Homo sapiens: one gene and its partners. The protein of the gene in region 2 interacts with the protein of the main gene of each other region in a biochemical or structural test. Each region holds a gene or a part of one and is shown on either strand. Other genes may lie near its edges.

The links. Proteins that work in one complex are often made in the same cells at the same time.
Region 1: the proteins of KDM5A (region 2) and H3C15 form a complex in vitro, tested with the Homo sapiens proteins (one study listed by BioGRID).
Region 3: the proteins of KDM5A (region 2) and LMO2 form a complex in vitro, tested with the Homo sapiens proteins (one study listed by BioGRID).
Region 4: the proteins of KDM5A (region 2) and RBL1 form a complex in vitro, tested with the Homo sapiens proteins (one study listed by BioGRID).

What each region holds. Positions count from the first base shown.
Region 1 is NC_000001.11:149,851,108-149,853,625, reverse strand, and holds H3C15 (histone H3.2), read right to left. Parts: upstream 1,019-2,518; 5' UTR 972-1,018; coding exon 561-971; 3' UTR 501-560; downstream 1-500. Other genes in the region: H2AC19 (histone H2A type 2-A), read right to left, coding at 2,120-2,512. UniProt on the Homo sapiens protein: Core component of nucleosome. Nucleosomes wrap and compact DNA into chromatin, limiting DNA accessibility to the cellular machineries which require DNA as a template.
Region 2 is NC_000012.12:379,321-382,820, reverse strand, and holds part of KDM5A (lysine-specific demethylase 5A), read left to right. Parts: intron 1-3,500. UniProt on the Homo sapiens protein: Histone demethylase that specifically demethylates 'Lys-4' of histone H3, thereby playing a central role in histone code. Does not demethylate histone H3 'Lys-9', H3 'Lys-27', H3 'Lys-36', H3 'Lys-79' or H4 'Lys-20'.
Region 3 is NC_000011.10:33,861,077-33,864,576, forward strand, and holds part of LMO2 (rhombotin-2), read right to left. Parts: intron 1-3,500. UniProt on the Homo sapiens protein: Acts with TAL1/SCL to regulate red blood cell development. Also acts with LDB1 to maintain erythroid precursors in an immature state.
Region 4 is NC_000020.11:37,033,498-37,036,997, reverse strand, and holds part of RBL1 (retinoblastoma-like protein 1), read left to right. Parts: intron 1-1,489; coding exon 1,490-1,756; intron 1,757-3,500. UniProt on the Homo sapiens protein: Key regulator of entry into cell division. Directly involved in heterochromatin formation by maintaining overall chromatin structure and, in particular, that of constitutive heterochromatin by stabilizing histone methylation.

The DNA.
Region 1 (2,518 bases), on a different chromosome or scaffold from region 2:
GGGACTGAACGGCAGCCCCAGCGCAGTTCTCCCCACGTTTGTCCGCAGAACCCCGGCGAGGCCGAGGTGGTCATTTCCCTCCCTAGCCGGATGGCCGCGCCGGGTGAGGCCGGTTTGGGCGCGAAGCACGGGCGTGTGGCGCTCCACTTCCGCAAAGGCCAGCCGCGCTCAGGACCGCGAGCCCTGAGCGTCCCCCTAGTGACCCCTGGCCTCGTGCCCGACGCCCCGTCTCTCCTGCCCCGGCCCCCCCGCCACGCAGGGCCCCGGTCACGCGCGGGGGGAGCCGGACCGCCAAAGCCCGCGAGCCGGCGCCCAGGAAAGCGTCCGCAGCCCGGCCAGTGCGGATAGGCCAATTGGCCGAAGTCGGCAAAGCTCAAGACGGCACCGCAGCAGGGGGACCCGACCCCGTTTTGTTGGGAGCCTAAGCGGAAGTGCCTTCCCCGCTCTAATGCCGGAGGAGCACGGAGGGCAAGCGGTACAGCTTCTTCCAAGTGCTGATGTGGGTGGCTCTGAAAAGAGCCTTTTGGATACGATGGAACCTCCGGCCGAACCGCCACTTCTTAAGCCCGCTCTCCACGGATGCGGCGGGCCAGCTGGATGTCCTTGGGCATAATGGTCACGCGCTTGGCGTGGATGGCGCACAGGTTCGTGTCTTCGAACAGCCCCACCAGGTAGGCCTCGCTGGCCTCCTGCAGCGCCATCACGGCCGAGCTCTGGAAGCGCAGGTCCGTCTTAAAGTCCTGCGCGATCTCGCGTACCAGCCGCTGGAAGGGCAGCTTGCGGATCAGCAGCTCCGTGGACTTCTGGTAGCGCCGGATCTCCCGCAGGGCTACGGTGCCGGGCCGGTAGCGGTGCGGCTTCTTCACCCCGCCCGTGGCCGGCGCGCTCTTGCGGGCCGCCTTGGTGGCCAGCTGCTTCCTCGGGGCCTTGCCGCCGGTCGACTTGCGAGCAGTCTGCTTAGTACGGGCCATAGCGAACCAAAACACAGGCTTACCAGCGCAGCGGCGGGGAGAAAAACGAGCTCCTAGCCCCGCCGCAGCCGTCTTTATAAGCACAGTCTTTTCCCGATTGGGCGGAACAATAATTGAAAATCCCGCGCTGGCTGTCCATTGGCTGTGACGTCACCCGTCCTAAAGTCACCGGTTGGCTTGGGCAGATTCCTCCCTAATCCCGCCCACCCCGCCTCACTTTCTACTTACCAGTTGGCGAAGTTTCGCAAGCTTGTTTTTCCCCTTTCCTTCAGGGTGAAAGTCATTTTCCATTGCAGCTTTGTCAGATTGTTCCCTTTCCGCCCTTCGCTTCCTTAGAACACACTGCCCGCAATACCCCCCCTTTCTTGCTGCGCCCTACAGCTCCCGCGTGGAACCTCATTCTTCCATTTGCCCCCCGCCCCCAGTTGCTACTTGGCGGATCGTTTTTCGCCTGTCGGGTGCCTTTTGGGTGGGAGAGGTGCCCGCCCCCAGGACGCAAGATTCCGCCTCCGAGGCCCTTACTCTCCGCCGCCAGGGCGCTTTGGAAAACAAAACAGAAACTAAGACTTAAGTCAGCTCAGTGAAGCCAAGACCCAGCTCCGCCACACTAGCGAGCACTACCCGCTCAGGGCCCTCCCCATCGGGGGTGGGGACGAGGAGCACGTCCCGCTGGTGCCAGACTAGGTCTAAGTGTCCGGCCATAGCCTGCGGAAACCACTAGGGAAGCGCGCGCTCCGCGCGCAACACTTCAGCGCGTTGGGTACTGCCCGCGGCGCTGGTGTTTGTGACTGTGTGGAGCGGACCGTGGCGGCGCCCAGGACGTTTGGTGCCTGCACCTGCCCTGGGAAGTCCTAGGACTGGGGACCCACTCATCGAAGAGCCAAGGCAGTTACGTGCTCCAGATGGAAGACGGCGCGCACACACACACACCCCGCCCCGCCCCGCCCCGTCCCGTCCCGTCCCGTCCCGTCCCGTCCCGTCAGCTCCAGGTTCGCTATTCACTACTGAGGAACGCTGGACTGAGAGTGGCCAGCATTAACAACTCTTTTATTTGAAAACGTGGGTGGCTCTGAAAAGAGCCTTTTGAGTTCACAGGTGCCCCTTCGAGACGCGGGCCGGGCTGGGCCCACTTGGGCCGGACGTCAGCCTCACTTGCCCTTTGCCTTGTGGTGACTCTCCGTCTTCTTAGGGAGCAGTACGGCCTGGATGTTAGGCAAGACGCCGCCCTGGGCGATGGTGACTTTGCCCAGCAGCTTGTTCAGTTCCTCGTCGTTGCGGATGGCCAGCTGGAGGTGACGAGGGATGATGCGCGTCTTCTTGTTGTCCCGAGCCGCGTTGCCCGCCAGCTCCAGGATCTCGGCGGTCAGATACTCGAGGACCGCAGCCATGTAGACGGGCGCGCCGGCCCCCACTCGCTCCGCGTAGTTGCCTTTGCGCAGCAAGCGATGCACTCGCCCTACCGGGAACTGAAGGCCAGCGCGGGACGAGCGCGACTTGGCCTTGGCGCGGGCCTTGCCTCCTTGCTTGCCACGACCAGACATGACAGC
Region 2 (3,500 bases):
AGCTGGGATTACAGGCATGTGCCAACACACCAGGCTAATTTTGTATTTTTTAGTAGAGATGGGGTTTCACTATCTTAGTCAGGCTGGTCTCGAACTTCTGACCTCGTGATCCGCTCACCTTGATCTCCCAAAGTGCTGGGATTATAGATTACAGGCGTGAGCCACCGCGCCCGGCTAAAATATGTTTTGTTACTACAATAATACAAATTTATTATTGCTTAATTATCTGGGAATTTTGTAAAACAACTTCTTCTTGTGGCCTTTCATATCTTATAATTTATATACTATTTTGAAATAAAAATTTATTCTTATTTAAATTGCAGTTACTTTTAGAAGATTTCACTTTTTTTTTTTTTTGAAATGGAGTCACGCCCTTGTTGCCCAGGCTGGAGTGCAGTGGTGCCATCTCGGCTCACTGCAGCCTCCACCTCCCGGGTTCAAGTGATTCTTCTGCCTCAGCCTCCCGGGTTCAAGTGATTCTCCTGCCTTGGCCTCCCAAATACCTGGGATTACAGGTGCCTGCCACCACACCTGGCTAATTTTGTATTGTTAGTAGAGACAGGGTTTCTCCATGTTGGTTAGGCTGGACTCGAACTCCTGACCTCAGATGATCCACCCGCCTCAGCCTCCCAGAGTGTTGGGATTACAGGCGTGAGCCACCATGCGTGGCCAGGAAGATTTCACTTGTAAGGAAAAACATGAGAATAATTCGTGGCATGTGGTGGCTCATACCTATAATCCCAGCACTTTGGGAGGCTGAGGTGGAAGGATTGCTTGAACCTAGGAGTTCGAGACCAGGCTAGGCAACATAGTGAGACTCCATCTCTACAAAAAATTAAAAAATAAATAATCCTGGCATGGTGGTGGACTCCTGGAGTCCCAGCTAATCAAGAGGCTGAGGCAGGAGGATTGCTTGAGCCCAGGAGGTCAAGACTGCGGTGAGCTGTCATCACACCACTGCATTCCAGCTTGAGTGACAGAGCAAGACCCTGTTTCCAAAAAAACAGAGTAACCATATTTAAATTATCTTTTATGATACATTTTAAAATTAGTGTCAGGTCAAAATTCTCTTACTAAAAAATTTGGGAAGTACGGTCTTACGCTAAAATACAGCTTGAGACTTTTTTTAATCAGTCAGGTAATGATGTTAGTAAGTAAGCACTGTGTCAAGAATTGTCTAGTATAGTTATATGAAAACCTATGGTACTAAAGAACAAATTATGCTAAATTTGGGTGGTGGGTTTCTTCTTATAGGGAACTATTAGGATAAAAATTCATCTTAAGAATGCTTTTTTGAAATTTTTATTCAATCAAAACTTACCTACTAAGTTTTGCTGTATGATGCTGTTTAAGATTCTGAATGTGTTTGACTGTAGTATGAATAAAATACAAAAAAAATTTCAAAAATTGGCTCGGCACTGTGGCTCATGCCTGTAATCCCAGCACTTTGGAAGGCTGAGGCGGATGGATCACCTGAGGTCAGGAGTTTTTGAGACCAGCCTGGCCAACATGATGAAAACCTGTCTCAGCCGGGCACGGTGGCTCATGCCTGTAATCCCAGCACTTTGGGAGGCTGAGGCAGGAGGATCACTTGAGGTCGGGAGTTCGAGACCAACCCAACCAACATGGAGAAACCTCGTCTCTACTAAAAATACAAAATTAGCCGGACGTGGTGGCACATGCCTGTAATCTCAGCTACTTGGGAGGCCGAGGCAGGAGAATTGCTTGAACCCGGGAGGTGGAGGTTGTGGTGAGCTGAGATCACGCCATTGCACTTCAGCCTGGGCAATAAGAGCGGCACAACTCCGTCTAAAAAAAAAAAATAAAATAAAACCTATCTCTACTAATTATGCAAAAAATTAGCCAGGTGTGGTGGTGGGCACCTGTAATTCCATCTGCTCAGGAGGCTGAGGTAGGAAATCACTTGAAACCGGGAGGCAGAGGTTGCAGTGAGTTGAGATAGTACCACTGCACTCCAGCCTGGGCAACAAGAGTGAAACTGTGTCTGAAAAAAAAATTTTTTTTTCAAAAATTATTTTATCATTAATAGCAATATGTTGTAGTACTCTTTAATGAAGCTCTTTCTACTTTTTTTTTTTAGACAGAGTCTCACTCTTTTGCCCAGACTGGAGTGCAGTGGCACAATCTTGGCTCACTGCTACCTCCATCTCCCAGGTTCAACCGATTCTCATGCCTCAGCCTTCTGAGTAGCTGGGACTGGGATTAAAGGTGTGTGCCACCACACCCAGCTAATTTTTATATTTTTAGTAAAGATGGGGTTTTTACCATGTTGGCCAGGCTGGCCTTGAACTCCTGACCTGAAATGATCTGCCCACCTTGGCCTCCCAAAGTGTAGGGATTACAGGTGTGAGCCACTGTGCCCGGCCAATCTTTATCTCTATTTTATTTTCATAAATACCCTAAGGAATTTGCTAGAGTAAGTATTAATAGTATGAGTAGTAATCTATTGAAACTTTCTCTGTCAGTGATTTTCCATTTAAAAGGTAAACCTTAGGTTTAATCTGATGGTAAGTTAAATTGCATTTTTTTTTTTTTTTTGGAGACGGAGTCTCCCCCATCACCCAGGCTAGAGGCGTGATCTCGGCTCACTGCAACCTCCCACCTCCTGGGTTCAAGCGATTCCCCTCACTCAGCCTCAGAAGCAGCTGGGACTACAGGCGCACACCACCACGCCTGGCTAATGTTTGTATTTTTAGTAGAGACGGGGTTTCGTCATGTTGGCCAAGCTAGTCACGAACTCCTGATCTCAAGTGATCTCCCATCTTGGCCTCCCAAAATGGTGGGATTACAGGTGCAAGCCACCGTGCCCGGCTGCACTTTTCTGGTTTTCTAAAGTCATAGGATTTCAAAATAGGGAAGGGGCTTTTAGAGGTAACCTAGTCTGAATACTTAGTTGTTCACAATTCTCCTTATAACGGTCATCCAGAGTGTTTAACTCCATCTTGAGAAGCTGATTTCCTTTTAAGGTTCATACTACTAATAAAGTACACTTTGTTTAAATATTCAGAAAACTTATTGAAAATATGTTATGATTAAAGGTTAAGTGTGCTTATCTGACGGTTTATTGGAATCTTGTCTTTGTGGGTTTTTTTAAGTCCTCATGGACATCTCTTTCCCCAACCTGTGAGAATGTTTGCAAAACTGAGATTTAAAGCTAAAAGGCAGACAAACTTTGATTTGTAGTTATTTTAGTTTATAATACTTTGTTCCCTAAATGTCATTGTGAGATTGCTGCTTCTCACGTTAACTTTTTTCTTTTACATTGAGGTGTAACTTACAGTGTAATGCACAAATTTCAAGCGTACAGTTCAATAAATTTTCATATGTGTACACCTGTTTTGTAGCCATCACGCAGATCAAGATATATAACATTTTTATAGCACTCTAGTGGGTTGTTTCATCTCCTTTCCAGTCAATACTTCTTCACAAAGGTAATTTATTCTGACCTTTATCATTGGGTGACTATTTATTTCATTAAC
Region 3 (3,500 bases), on a different chromosome or scaffold from region 2:
AAACAACCAAACGAAGCATGTCAGGGCACCCATGGTCAAGGGCTAAGCCAACGCTGGTTATGTTTTAACACATCTTGGGTGTATTCCCAGCTGTGCCAGTCTTGCTGCAGGAAGTAATTTTCACTCGTGGCTGAAAACATAGCATGTTAGCAGGTGGTTTCTACATAAAACCTTTAGGACAGTTTTAGGTGAATGCTTGCTCTTATTGGAAGTTCTGGTTGATTTCAGGATATCAGAGAATCAGTGGGTACATTCTGAGAGGTTGTAGGGGACCTAAGGGCAGTTGACACATTTTGCAATATTTGGGCGAGATTAATGGAATTGACAAGAGGTGGTCTGTGAGTGGAGAGCTCATTGTTCGGGCCAGGGCCAGCTAATTTGCCTCTGAATCCTGCTTTCCATTTGAAGATCTCTGAGTGTTTTCAAAGCACCGCCTGGGAGCAAACTCATTACTGGGGGGAGAACATTTTATCCCAACGTAGCAGATGGTGGAGCTGCAGGTAACCGCCACATTGGAGGTCACAGAGTGGAAAGACAGTTCTGGTTTCCTGACTGCTCTGTAAGTTAAGTTTGGGCCTGAGCAAGGATGAACGACTGAGAAAACAGTGTGCATGGAATGAATCCAACTGCCTGGGGTGTGCGATCCTTAAGGAAGGAGGGAGCTTATTAAAGGGAAGTCAGGGGGTAAATTACAACCCACATCAGGCAGCTATGAAGGGAAGGACAAAGGACGAATATGTGGGAGACAAGTTCAGGTCCCAGCATGACCTCTAACTTGCCAGGTGACCTGAGCAAATGGAGTCCCCTGTACAGGCTTCTGTGACTTAAGCCATAAAGCAAGGGAACTGAAAAAGAAGGTCTCTGTAGCCCCTTCCAGCTCTGGGATTCGGAGATTCTAATATTAGTAAAAAATAAGCCGGGACTTGACACCTAACTTGAGCATTAACCTCTGGCACCAAGAATTGGTATCTTAGGCTGGATATCCCAGAAGCAGCCCCTGAGGCAAGGATTGATGTGCCAGTGATTTATGAATGAGGCATTCTCAGGAAAAACCTGGAAGGCAGCAGGGGAGGCTGGAGGGAAGGGGAGGAAGCCAAGCCAAGTTGTATCCTCAGGCAAAGTCCCTCAGAGGGGAGGGACCCTGGAATATAAGTTATGCCTGGCTCCAGGCAAGGCTGCGGGGCTTGGTACTCCCACCATGTCTGTCACTGGTTAAGGTCCGTTGGGGGTCTAGTTGGGGCAGGCATACTTCTGGCTCTAACAGATTCAGGTGCTGGCTGTTAAAAGCAAAACCACTGCCATCACCGCCACCCCACCACTCCCAGCACACAAGAATTAGTGAAAAGGGATCCAAGGAGATCTGGCTCAGCACAGACATGAACAGCTGCTCTTGGGTTCCCAACAATACAACACAGCAGCAGAGTTGAGGTTCTGCATGGGGGTCTCATGAATGTTTGAAGCTAAATGTCGGAAAAGAACTGTAACAGGCAACTCAGCCATTGGAAATCCTCACGGGGACAAGTTATCCTAGGGGTGAAGAACTCAAACACATTAGAGGGCCCGTTCAGTTACTCCTCCAACTTGCCTTGTTAAAAGATCCTGCCAGATATACTAAGAATGCCAGTAAACAAGACCTTGGCTAAAGGACCATCCCTGACGCAAAAGACAATTTTTCTCCTCTGTCAAGAGATGTCCCATCTTAAGCTCTCTGCTGCCCATTTTAATAACAATAATATAAATATTAAAGAATGGCTGGAAATGCCTGCACTAATGCAGAGTTAATTAACATGTTGCCTAGGAATGTGGCAGGGAGAAGAATTATTTCATGTCACCAAGACACAAGTTAATTAACATTGGGTTCTCCCAGACTGTTTTTTTTTTCCTCTCCTTTTTGAAAATGGAAAGGATTAACAAGCCCAGGCAGCACTGGTTTTATTCCTGAATGTTATATAAAACGGTAGAGATAGGGAGAAGCTGGGGCTCTTCTGACCTTACTCTATCTGCACTTCAGTTAATAAGATTCAAATGATTTGACAGGGATGGAGTCAAGGGTCCGATGGGAATCATTTACCCGTCTGCCCTCTCACTGACTTGGCAAACTGGGAGTGAGCAAAACCAGGTCTGTATTTATCCAAGTTCTATTTTCTGTGACTTAAAAAAAAGAAAACTGACCAAAATTATAAGCATGATCATTGCAAAATCCTACTTATTTTCTCGGAACCACCATATCTGCAAGGACTGCAAGAACTTTATCTGGGAATTCAAGGACAAAAAGCTTCTTCTAACAGTCTTTAGGTAAAGCTTCCTTCACTGTGAAACTGCCTGCAGTTTTTTTGGTTTTGTTTTGTTTCTATAATGTAAAATGCTCTGAGGGCAGGTTTGGGAGGAAAAGCTGGCCCAGCAGCCAAGGGCGCTGAGGTCTCAACAAGCTTCCATGGGTTGGATGGTCCTGGTGTATCAGGGAAGCATGCTTCACAGACCCTCTGCTCCAGGAAAACGGAGAAATACTGACAGCTACACAGTTGAGCAGATCTGACAGTAGAGGGCACAGAGACAGTTACCTCCACAGCAGCTCATCGGAAACTAGAAACACTAGTACATTCTAGGCAAAGGCTTTCACACAGTGCTGGAAAATTCGGATGGCCAATAGGATGGCCCAGAGCATGGGAGATGTCCTCAGCTCCTGTCTTACTTGGTGTTGTCGAGTTCCTATTTTACTCTTCCATTCTTCCATCCCTTTGCTCATTAGATTGGAAAATAATGATTATGTAAGAGCAGCTAACATCTATTTGATCCATACCAAGCCAAGTAGTTTATCTGCATTATTCCATCAAATCCTCCCCACATCCTTAGAGGTAGGTGCTATTATCATCCCCATTTTACAGATAAGGAAATCGAGGCTTAGGAAGGTTAAATAACTTGCCCAAGGCCACCAAGCTGGGAAGCAATGGTATTGGGACTCAAACCTCCAACTGCCTACAGGGCCTTTGCCTTTCTGCTCTTCGAAGACTGCCTTCCTGCTATGAGTCAATGCTTGGAGCTCCATATGCTTTCTATTTTTAAATTTCTCATCATATAATACTGGAGTCATACAAAAAAAATTTATAACATACATATATGTTCTGAAGCATTCAAATGAGGTCCTCAGAGCCCACCTCCAAACTTAGAAACACTCCCAGTCCCTCTGATCCTCCGTGTGTACTCCTCCTCAATCCCATCCCCTAGCTTCTCCCGCTCCCCAAGGGAAGCACTTTTCTGAATTTTGGGTATACAATTCTCTTGCCTTTAAAGATATTAGTATTTTACCACATAGGAACGTAACCCTGAGAACATGCTTCTCAAACAGGAAGAAATGCCCTCTGCTTCTCAGCACAGGAGCTGAGACTCAGCCTCTGCAGTCTGACCTCTTTCTATAGGTGGTGTCCGAGCCTGGAGCAGGGTAAGGGGCAACACACACCGACTGCAGATGTCCATGGACCACCCAGCCTCCCTTCCGAGGG
Region 4 (3,500 bases), on a different chromosome or scaffold from region 2:
TACAGAGAGCTTCTAAATCATTGCCAGGGGTCATTTTCATACCTTTTGAACATGTTTTGAAAATAGATTACAGGGCCAGGCGCAGTGGCTCACGCCTGTAATCCCAGCACTTTGGGAGGCCGAGGCGGGCAGATCACGAGGTCAGGAGATCGAGACCATCCTGGCTAACACGGTGAAACCCCATCTCTACTAAAAATACAAAAAATTAGCCGGGCATGGTGGCGGTTGCCTGTAGTTCCAGCTACTCAGGAGGCTGAGGCAGGAGAATGGCGTGAACCTGGGAGGCGGAGCTTGCAGTGAGCTGAGATCATACCACTGCACTCCAGCCTGGGCAACAGAGCGAGACTCCATCTCAAAAAAAAAAAAAAAAAGAAAAGAAAATAGATTACATGACTATCTAATTATCTAGTGAATGTAAAAATAAATAATGAAGGCCGGGCACGGTGGCTGAAGCTTGTAATCCCAAATGAGGCAGGTGGATCACCTGAGGTCAGGAGTTCAAGACCAGCCTGGCCAACATGGCAAAACCCTGTCTCTACTAAAAATAGAAAAATTAGCCAGGCATGGTGGCACATGCCTGTAGTCCCAGCTACTTGGGAGGCTGAGGCAGGAGAATCGCTTGAACCCAAGAGGCAGAGGTCACAGTAGGCCAAAATCGTGCCACTGCACTCCAGCCTGGGTGACAGAGCAAGACTCCATCTCATAAATAAATAAATACTTTTGTTTTAAAAGCATATTATTGACCTACCTGTAAGGAATAATTGGTTGAGGGAAGAATTGTGAAAAAAGATGTAGAAAAGATGTAGGGTTGTAAGGGGCTAGAAAAACCCGTGCAGCTGGTAGAGAGGGAATGGAAAGCAGATCCTGTGAAAGGATAGCACAGGAAGAGAGGCAAAATCCATAATCCTTACTTTATTTTTGATCAACACAGTACTGCCAACCCTCAGATTAAGGCAAGGTAAGCAGATTTATATCATCTTTACTCATATCTTCTGATAGATTTACTAAAGATGATTCCATATCTACTAAATTAGAAAGCCAGAGCTACCGCCTTAAACTGCTTGGAGTGCAAATATTCACAAAGAGGCAAAACTGTGACCCAAATTCCTGATTTTTGCTTTTGCTTCCCTTCTTCTCAGGTGCTCTCTACTAGGTAAGATTGGGAGATATTGGACTACTACTAAAATTTAGTGCTCACTTCATTCTACCTCTCAACCTCTACTTTGTCCTTAATGTTTTGCTCCTTTAATGTAGGCAGAGGTTCAAGAAACCAGGAAGATGAGTGATCATAATTTTCACGTTTTATCGTAGTGACTTATTTCATGCCTCTTTCTCCCAGTAGACTACATATTCCATGAGGGCAAAGGCCATGTTATTCATATCTAGCTAGTGCCCAGCATAAGTAACTCACTATCTGTTGAGTGAATGAGTAAACCTAATTTATTATTTTGGAATACATTTCTGTTTTAAATTTATTATTTTTTTTTAGATATGCAACCATTGTCTCCAATTTCTGTCCATGAACGCTACAGTTCTCCTACCGCAGGGAGTGCTAAGAGAAGACTCTTTGGAGAGGACCCCCCAAAGGAAATGCTTATGGACAAGATCATAACAGAAGGAACAAAATTGAAAATCGCTCCTTCTTCAAGCATTACTGCTGAAAATGTATCAATTTTACCTGGTCAAACTCTTCTAACAATGGCCACAGCCCCAGTAACAGGAACAACAGGACATAAAGTTACAATTCCATTACATGGTAACGTTATAGTGCATTTGTTTTGTACTTTTTCTGAGATAAAAATTTAAGAAATGTCTTAGTGGATTAGATCACATGGTTTTTCTAACTCATTATTTTTTCTTGAACCTATACTTTTTTTTTTTAAATAGATTTGAATTTTTTAGAGCAGTTGTAGATTCACAGCAAAATTCAGAGGAAGGTACAGACATTTCTCATAGTCCCCCTTCCCCAACCAGAGGCATATAAAGCCTCCCTCATTATCAGTATTCCACACCAGAATGCTACATTTGTTACAGTTGATGAACCTACATTACTGACACATTACCCAATGCCCATAGTTTACATTAGGGTTCACTCTTGGTGAATAGTTTATTGATTTTGAGAACGTATAATGACATGTATCTGTCACTATAGCTCCATACAGAGTAGTTTCACTGCCCTATAAATCCTCTGTGCCCCACCTTTTTGTTTTGAACCTATAGTGGTTTTTTTTTTATTTTTAAATTTTATAAATTTACTACCCTCTCTGTTTGTTTAGACTTATTTTACTTTTTCTTTTCTTCTTTTTTTATTTTTTGAGACAGGATCTCACTCTGTCACCCACATTGGAGTACAGCAGCATGATCTCATCTCACTGCAACCTCTGCTCCCAGGCTCAAGTGATCGTCCCACCTCAGCCTCCTGAGTAGCTGGGACCACAGGCAAGTGCCACCACTCCCAGCTAATTTTTTCTATTTGTGGTACAGATGAGGTTTTACCATGTTGCCCAGGTCTCAAACTACTTTTAAAATGTTCTTATCTGAGCTTTCCAATATGTATGTATTGAGCAAAAATTCTGTTTTTTGACTAACAGCTCAAGTGCTCAAAATGTTAAAAAAAAAAATGCTTTTTTTTCCAATAAATTTAAACTATAAATGTATCCCAGGCAAATACAAAATAGAGAACAAAATTTGCTTTTTTTTCCATAAATTTAAAGTATAAAAACAAAACCGAATATTCTTGTTTCTAGAAAATAAGGATTTATGCGGGGCATGGTAGCTTTCACCTGTAATCCCAGCACTTTGGGAGACCAAGGCAAGAGGATCACTTTAGCCCAGGAGTTTGAGACCCAGACTGGGCAACATAGCAATATCCTATCTCTACAAAAAATTAAATTAGCTGGGCATGGTGATGTATGCCTATGGTCCCAGCTACTTAGGAGGCTGAGGCAGGAGAATCACTTGAGCCCAGGAATTTGAGGCTACAGTGAGCCATGATCACGCTACTGTACTCCAGCCAGGACAACAGAGCAAGACATTGTCAAAAAAAAAAAGAAAAAGAAAAAAAAAAGGGGGCCCGGGGGGCGCCAGGCACAGTGGCTCACACCTATAATCCCAGCACTTTGGGAGGCTGAGGCAGGTGGATCACTTGAGGTCAGGAGTTTGAGACCAGCCTGGCCAACGTGGTGAAACCCCGTCTCTACTAAAAATAGAGAAAAAACATTAGCCGGGTGTGGTGGCGCATGCCTGTAGTCCCAACTATTCAGGAGGCTGAGGCAGGAGAATTGCTTGAACCTGGGAGGCAGAGGTCTCAGTGAGCCAAGATGAGGCCACTGCACTCCCACCTGGGTGACAGAGTGAGACTGTCTCAAAAAAAAAAAAAAAAAGTCCAGCTGCAGTGGCTCATGCCTGTAATCCTAGCATTTTGGGAGGCCAAGGCAGGCAGATGGCTTGAGCTGACGAGTTCGAGACTAACCTGGGCAACATGGCAAAACTCCCATCTC